Linked DNA regions of Homo sapiens. The protein of the gene in region 1 purifies or fractionates together with the protein of each later gene. This does not show direct contact. Each region holds a gene or a part of one and is shown in the gene's direction. Other genes may lie near its edges.

Region 1 (3,192 bases):
GTTTTGGAATTCTTAACCTGTGTTGTTTTTTATGGCTATTTGTAAGCGTAAAGAGTACTGTAAGAGCTTTGATCATCTTAGTAAGGGTCACAGGTGTCATCTGTTTAAGCAGATATTTTCTTTATCAGGGATAAGGGAACTATTACTTGATAAATATTTCTGCCCTTTGGAGAGAGCAGCATTACAGATTTGGAAACCAATAAATTTGAGTAGGCTAAAAACTTGGTGATTCAAAGTATGACTCTGTAAACCTGGTCAAGTTCCTTAAACGTTAGTCCCCTCATCTTTTAAGTGTGTACAATGTCTATCACATTGGATTGTTTTAGGAATTAACTAAGTTAGGTCCATGTTGTTTGTTAGTGTCTAGCAAAATTGTAAACACACAATGACTGTTAGCTATGATATCTGAAGGGGTAATTATTAAAGGCTTGGTTCAATTTTAGGCTCCTTTAAGGAACAGTGGATATACTGAGTAACATTTGACGGATGCTAGGAATGAAGTTATATTCTTTTTCTGTTTAATTTCAGATGTACTGGCGAAGAATATTTGGTAAAGCAGGGCATCGATCTCTCACCCTGGGGCTTGTGGAAGAATCACGTGGCCTTGGCTTGTATGATTGTTATTTTCCTCACAATTGCCTACCTGAAATTGTTATTTCTTAAAAAATATTCTTAAATTTCCCCTTAATTCAGTATGATTTATCCTCACATAAAAAAGAAGCACTTTGATTGAAGTATTCAATCAAGTTTTTTTGTTGTTTTCTGTTCCCTTGCCATCACACTGTTGCACAGCAGCAATTGTTTTAAAGAGATACATTTTTAGAAATCACAACAAACTGAATTAAACATGAAAGAACCCAAGACATCATGTATCGCATATTAGTTAATCTCCTCAGACAGTAACCATGGGGAAGAAATCTGGTCTAATTTATTAATCTAAAAAAGGAGAATTGAATTCTGGAAACTCCTGACAAGTTATTACTGTCTCTGGCATTTGTTTCCTCATCTTTAAAATGAATAGGTAGGTTAGTAGCCCTTCAGTCTTAATACTTTATGATGCTATGGTTTGCCATTATTTAATAAATGACAAATGTATTAATGCTATACTGGAAATGTAAAATTGAAAATATGTTGGAAAAAAGATTCTGTCTTATAGGGTAAAAAAAGCCACCGTGATAGAAAAAAAATCTTTTTGATAAGCACATTAAAGTTAATAGAACTTACTGATATTCCTGTCTAGTGGTATAATATCTCAGGAATCTTGGCTGAGGGTTTGGAACTGTGGGTAGAGTAGAGGGCCAGGAGTCCAGTAATAGAATTCTTGCACCATTTCTGGAACATTCTAGCTCTGGGAGGTCACGTAACCTTCTTGGGGTAGTTCAGTGGTTTAGTGGTTTATAATCCAGGTGTGCGTCAGAATCATCTGAGGAACTTTGCTAAAATACAAAAATCTGGCCTAAGTAGCTCCAGATCTACCTTCATAAAGGAATCTGACCACTCCTGGATTTGGTAATTTCCAAGTTCTGAAAATTTTACTTAGGATTTAATAACTATTAACATCTGTCCCTACATAGGTTTTCTTTCCTACTTATATACCTTATGTTCTCTTCATTCTAACCTTCATCAGTAATAGGGAAATGTTTTAATTTTATTTTTTTAGTTGAAGGGTAATGTACCAAAAAATATAGTTCAGTGAATTAAAATGAACACACATGTGCAACCATCAATTCAGGTCAAGAAATAGAAGATTGTAGCACACAAAAGCCTACTCAGCCATTCTCCCAGTCACTACTTCCTTCCTTACCCCTGGGTTATTTTTGAAATGACACTTGATGTATTTCCCTCTGTTGCTGTTATGAGAACATTGCTACAGCCAAGTGTTGTGTTTCTGTGTGCATAGGTTGATACTTAATTATCTCCCCACTTTTTAATAAACTTTTAATTTGGAAATAATTTTAGATTGACAGAAAAGTTGCAAAGATAGTGAGGAAAGTTCCTGTCTACTCTTTGCTCAGCTTCCCTTAATGTTAACATTTTATATAGCAAGATGCATTTGTCAAAGCTAACAAGTTAACATTGGTACAATCACTGTTAATTAAACTGCACACAATATTCAGATTTCACCACTTTTCCACTAATATTCTTTCATTGTTCTAGGATTCAATTCAGGAGACCACATTTCATCTAGCCCTCTTTTTTAAAAGTAAATACTTTTCAGCACTTACAGGAGTTAACTGAGCTGGGGCATCATGGTGTATAGACGCCCTGACACTGGTCATCTTGGAATTCATTTAGTTTGTCAGTGGGTGCCCTGACATTCTGTCACAACATCAATTTGGGAACATGGCATTATATTTTTATCTTTGAACTTTTTTCTTTTTGGATGACATTTGATTAATGCGTCATCTTGGAACACATTATCTTTTTTCTTGGTTATGTGATCAGGAAGATTAATCAGTTTTTCCTGTTCTTGGTATAATTCCTGCTTTTCACATACCTGTCCCTTACAGTTCTCTATATATACCCTTCCCTTATTACACAGAGAGAAATATCTATCTATACTTTTTACACAAAATATACTTCAAAAGAAACAAAACAGCCACAATTATTAACTTTTTAAATAAATGAGAATTTAATTATATCCTATTTTATGTATTCTTTTTTTATATTAAAATTACCTTTATATGCTTTTGTTGTGGTAGGAACCAGATAACATAAAATTTACCATCTTAACCATTTTAAAATTAAGGACTTTTTTTTTTTTTTTTTTTTTGAGATAGAGTCTCGCTTTGTCGCCCAGGCTGTGGTGCAGTGGCGCGATCTCGGCTCACTGCAAGCTCCGCCTCCCGGGTTCATGCCATTCTCCTGCCTCAGCCTGTAATGGCTGGGACTACAGGCTCCCGCTACCACGCCCGGCTAATTTTTTTTTTTTTGTATTTTTAGTAGAGACAGGGTTTCACTGTGTTAGTCAGGATGGTCTCCATCTCCTGACCTCGTGATCCACCCGCTTCGGCCTCCCAAAGTGCTGGGATTACAGGCCTGAGCCAGCGCGCCTGGCCAGGAACTTTTTTTAAAGTATGGTTTATTTTCTTATAAAGTAGAAATGTACTTAAGGATATAGATATCCATATATATTATATGTACCCTATATATTATATATATTCTCTGTATTTTTATATCCTCTCTATATAT
Region 2 (3,821 bases), on another chromosome or scaffold:
TTTCCCAGCTGTCTGAGTGGTGGCTCAAGACCGCCTACCTCCAGTACCGCCAGCCTGTGGTCATCTACTCGAGCCCAGGCGTGATGCTACCCAAGCAGGACTTCGTGGACCTGCAGGGTCAGCTCCGGTGAGTGGCTGGGGTTTGGGGGCCAGGAGGCAGCCGGGCCCCTCGAGTTCACTTCGCCCAGCCGCTTGGAGGGGCCCCGACCCTGTTTATCTTTCTGCCCCACAAGCAGCCTTATGAAGTAGGGAGCATCCTCCCTATTTTACAAATGGGGAAATTGAGGCTCGGAGCAGGGAAGGGAGCTGCCCAAGACCCCATTCAGGAAGCAGGGTCTCTCCAGCTCTAAAGCCTCATGGCTGTTAACCACCACATCTTCGCAGAGGCCCCATCCTCCTCCATACCTGAGGCTTCTCCCCGACCCCAGTTTTAGCACTTCACCTCTCCTTTCCACTCTTCTCAGCTAGCCACAGGGGTGACCTCTGTACACAGTCCTCTTTTCCACATTCAGCCAGGTCACCTGCCCCAGCCCCTATTCCAGTCCTACCAGAGATAAAAATACCAGTGACAAGGATCTCCTGCCCAAGGACCAGCCACTGGCTGCCACCACCTGCTTCTCTTAAAGGGACCAGGGTACCCTGGGAAGGGCCGGGGTTCAGGCCCAGGAACTCCAGCCACTGGTCCCCATGGTGGGATCCAGGGGCGGCCCCAAGCATTGAGGGTGGTTGCCATGGGCCAGACAGCCCTGGGAGGAAGGCGGCCTGGGGGACACAGAGGCCCAGAGTGGGGAAGGGACCTAGTGGAGGGAACACCGGAGCCACTGCTCTCCCATCACACCACCCCAGGGGCCCGGGGCCTCCAGAACCGATGCTTCAGAGCAGATGACACCCCCTCCAGATTCTAGGCTGAGGTTCAGGAGCTCAGGCCCTTTGTGGGTAGACCCAGCCCACTGACCCCTAACCAAGCCACACTCCAGCTGCAGGGGGCCAGCACCCAAGTCCTACTAGGCCCTTGGCCACCAGCACTTCCCCGAGCCCTCCCGACCATGCTCCCTCTAGAGGTTATGAAGAAGCACACACAGGCTGGCAAGCTGGGACTCGCAGGCCCCTCCCTTGCGCTCCCAGGCTTTCTGGAAGCGGTGAGAGAGGCTGGAAGACTAGACCTCCCGCTCCCCAAGCAGGTGTCCCTAGCCCGGGGCCTCCCTCAGGGTGTCCACGCAGCTTCTAATCTCTAATCAATCTTTCCAGATTTGCTGCCAAACTCATTGAGGGTGTGTTGGATTTCAAGGTCATGATTGACAAGTGAGCATCCCCACCCCTGCCCAGCCCCACACCTGCCCAGGCCTGCTTAATTACCACAGCCACCTCTGACCCCAGCCCTGGCCCGGCATGCCAGCTTGGGCCCTGGGCCCTGCTCCAGCTGCTGGAATCTCCTCTTGGTGGGTGACCCTGTCCCATCCCAACTAAAGAGGACCCCAGAGTTTTATTCGCTGCTTCATCTCCCCTGTGACAAACTGAAGCCCAGAGAGGGGAAAGGAGGGAGTTTCTAGATGACTTCTGAACAGGGCCCATCTGGGGCAGAAAGCGAGCCCCCTGCCCACAGCACAGCCCTGAGGTGTCCTGCTCATCTGGGAGTGGGAGCAGGGACACTGTGTGAGCCCCCAGCAGTACCTAGCAGGTCCCTGTCTACCCTGCCCTCCTCCCCATTCACTTGCCCAGTGGTGGCCTCACTGCCCCTCTACCCCATAGCGAGACCCTGCCCGTGGAGTACCTGGGGGGGAAGCCACTGTGCATGAACCAGTACTATCAGATCTTGTCCTCCTGCCGAGTGCCGGGCCCCAAGCAGGACACAGTCAGCAACTTCAGCAAGACCAAGAAGCCTCCCACGCACATCACCGTGGTACACAACTACCAGGTGGGTGGCCCCCACCCACACCTACAAGCCCCGGCCCTGCTGCAGGAGTACAGCCGGACGGCCGCAGTCGGCTTCCCCACTGGGGTTCCCCAGCACACGTGCCCACGTGCCCCAGGAATGGGCGCCCCTGGCTTCTCCATTGGGGGCCCAGGGAGGCCAGGAGGGGCCGTGGGCCTGCCCAGCCCAGAAGGGTGATCCAAGGACCTCCTCCCCCTCTCACCCTTGGCCTGACTCCATCCCCTCCAAGGCCAAGGCCAGGAGGAGGCAGGTGTGGGGAGGTGGCTGCTCTCAGCCTGAGGTCCCCACTCAGCTCCCTCCTCTTACCTGCCTGTGCCCCAACAGTTTTTTGAGCTGGATGTGTACCACAGTGACGGGACACCCCTCACTGCGGATCAGATCTTTGTGCAGCTGGAGAAGATCTGGAACTCATCCCTACAGACCAACAAGGAGCCTGTGGGCATCCTCACCTCCAACCACCGCAACTCCTGGGCCAAGGCATACAACACCCTCATCAAAGGTGCCTCTTGGGGGCCGTGCTGGGGCTGCACACCCAGGCCTCTTCCCCTGTTGGGGACCAGCCTCAACTCCACCTGTAGGGTACCCGAAGTCTGCTGGCAACAAAGGAATGAGAAGAGACAGGTTAAGAGTTCATGAAGGTGGGAGCCAGGGGCCAGTTGCAAAATGGAGGCTGCAAAAGGCGCAGAGTTCTGGTCTCCACACTATTGAGTGCAGTCACTTAGCTCTAAGAAGCACATGTTCAGGGCGAAACAGTGAAAGGGAGGCAGTGCCTCATAGGAGGCATAATCTATAGCAATAGCAGTTTAAATGAATCTCCTTTGTGCTCAAACAGCGTGTCTTTAACTTATCGGAGAGTAGCTGGTGGGAGCGGGCTTAACTAGGAGCCTGCACATCTGTCCACTTCCCAGTGTTTCAAAGGAGTGTCTTTCTCCTTGAACACAGTGTTTACAGATAGGAGAGCGGGTCTCGCTCTGAGCATGGGAACATGATGGCAATTAGTAGGCTTTCCTCCTCCGTGGCCTCTTCTGGCTTTCCACAACTTATTGTCCCCTATTTTTATGGCCAGTTTATACAGGCACCCCACAAGTCCTTTTCCCAACATTCCCCCGGCATGCTGGGCCCCGCACAGCCATGGGCAGACATGTTTCCCGCTGCATCCTCTCAACGTGGAGCAGGCAATGTGGGCCCCATGTCCTAGTTGAGGACACCTCATGGTTAGGGTAGTTTCTCTCAGCTAAATAGCAAGTTAGGATTAGAGTCCAAGTCCTCTGGCTGAGAAGCCCACCCGCCTCCACACCCCCTGTGCCCCCAAGTACCAGCAGTCCTCCAAAGCATGTCTTGCTCAGGGGCATTGACCCCAAAGTCAGACCACCTGTGTGGGTTCCCCGGCTGCCACACCAGCTCCCATGTGACCCCTGGGCTTCGGTTTCCTGTGTCTAAAGTGGGCCAGGTGTTGGGCCCTGCCTCGAGGAGTGCTGTGGGCCTGCAGGGTCCTGTTGAGTTCGAAGCTCTGAACCCACACCCTGCACTTGGTGAATGCCCTGGAGGGCCGGCGAGGTGGGGGGTCTCCTCATCCCAGAGAGGTACAAATGGGTCAGAAGAGCCCAGGGCAGGAGGCTGCGGAGGGGCTGGTCCATCTCTCCCACACCATGAGACCCCATTTTGCGTCTCCCCGCCCCATGCCACCTGCAGACAAGGTGAACCGGGATTCCGTGCGCTCCATCCAGAAGAGCATCTTCACCGTGTGCCTAGATGCAACCATGCCCAGGGTCTCAGAAGACGTGTACCGCAGCCACGTGGCAGGCCAGATGCTGCATGGGGGCGGCAGCAGGCTCAACAGCGGCAACCGCTGGTTCGACAAGACGCTGCAGGTGAGGCCCGGCAGGGC

Evidence for each region.
Region 2: the proteins of ABCG2 (region 1) and CRAT fractionate together in Homo sapiens (co-fractionation; one large-scale study listed by BioGRID). This does not show direct contact.

The regions. Positions count from the first base shown.
Region 1 is NC_000004.12:88,089,718-88,092,909, reverse strand, and holds the end of ABCG2 (broad substrate specificity ATP-binding cassette transporter ABCG2), read left to right. Parts: intron 1-528; coding exon 529-676; 3' UTR 677-2,641; downstream 2,642-3,192.
Region 2 is NC_000009.12:129,100,494-129,104,314, reverse strand, and holds part of CRAT (carnitine O-acetyltransferase), read left to right. Parts: intron 1-8; coding exon 9-127; intron 128-1,248; coding exon 1,249-1,302; intron 1,303-1,749; coding exon 1,750-1,915; intron 1,916-2,257; coding exon 2,258-2,432; intron 2,433-3,625; coding exon 3,626-3,804; intron 3,805-3,821. UniProt on the Homo sapiens protein: Catalyzes the reversible transfer of acyl groups from carnitine to coenzyme A (CoA) and regulates the acyl-CoA/CoA ratio. Also plays a crucial role in the transport of fatty acids for beta-oxidation.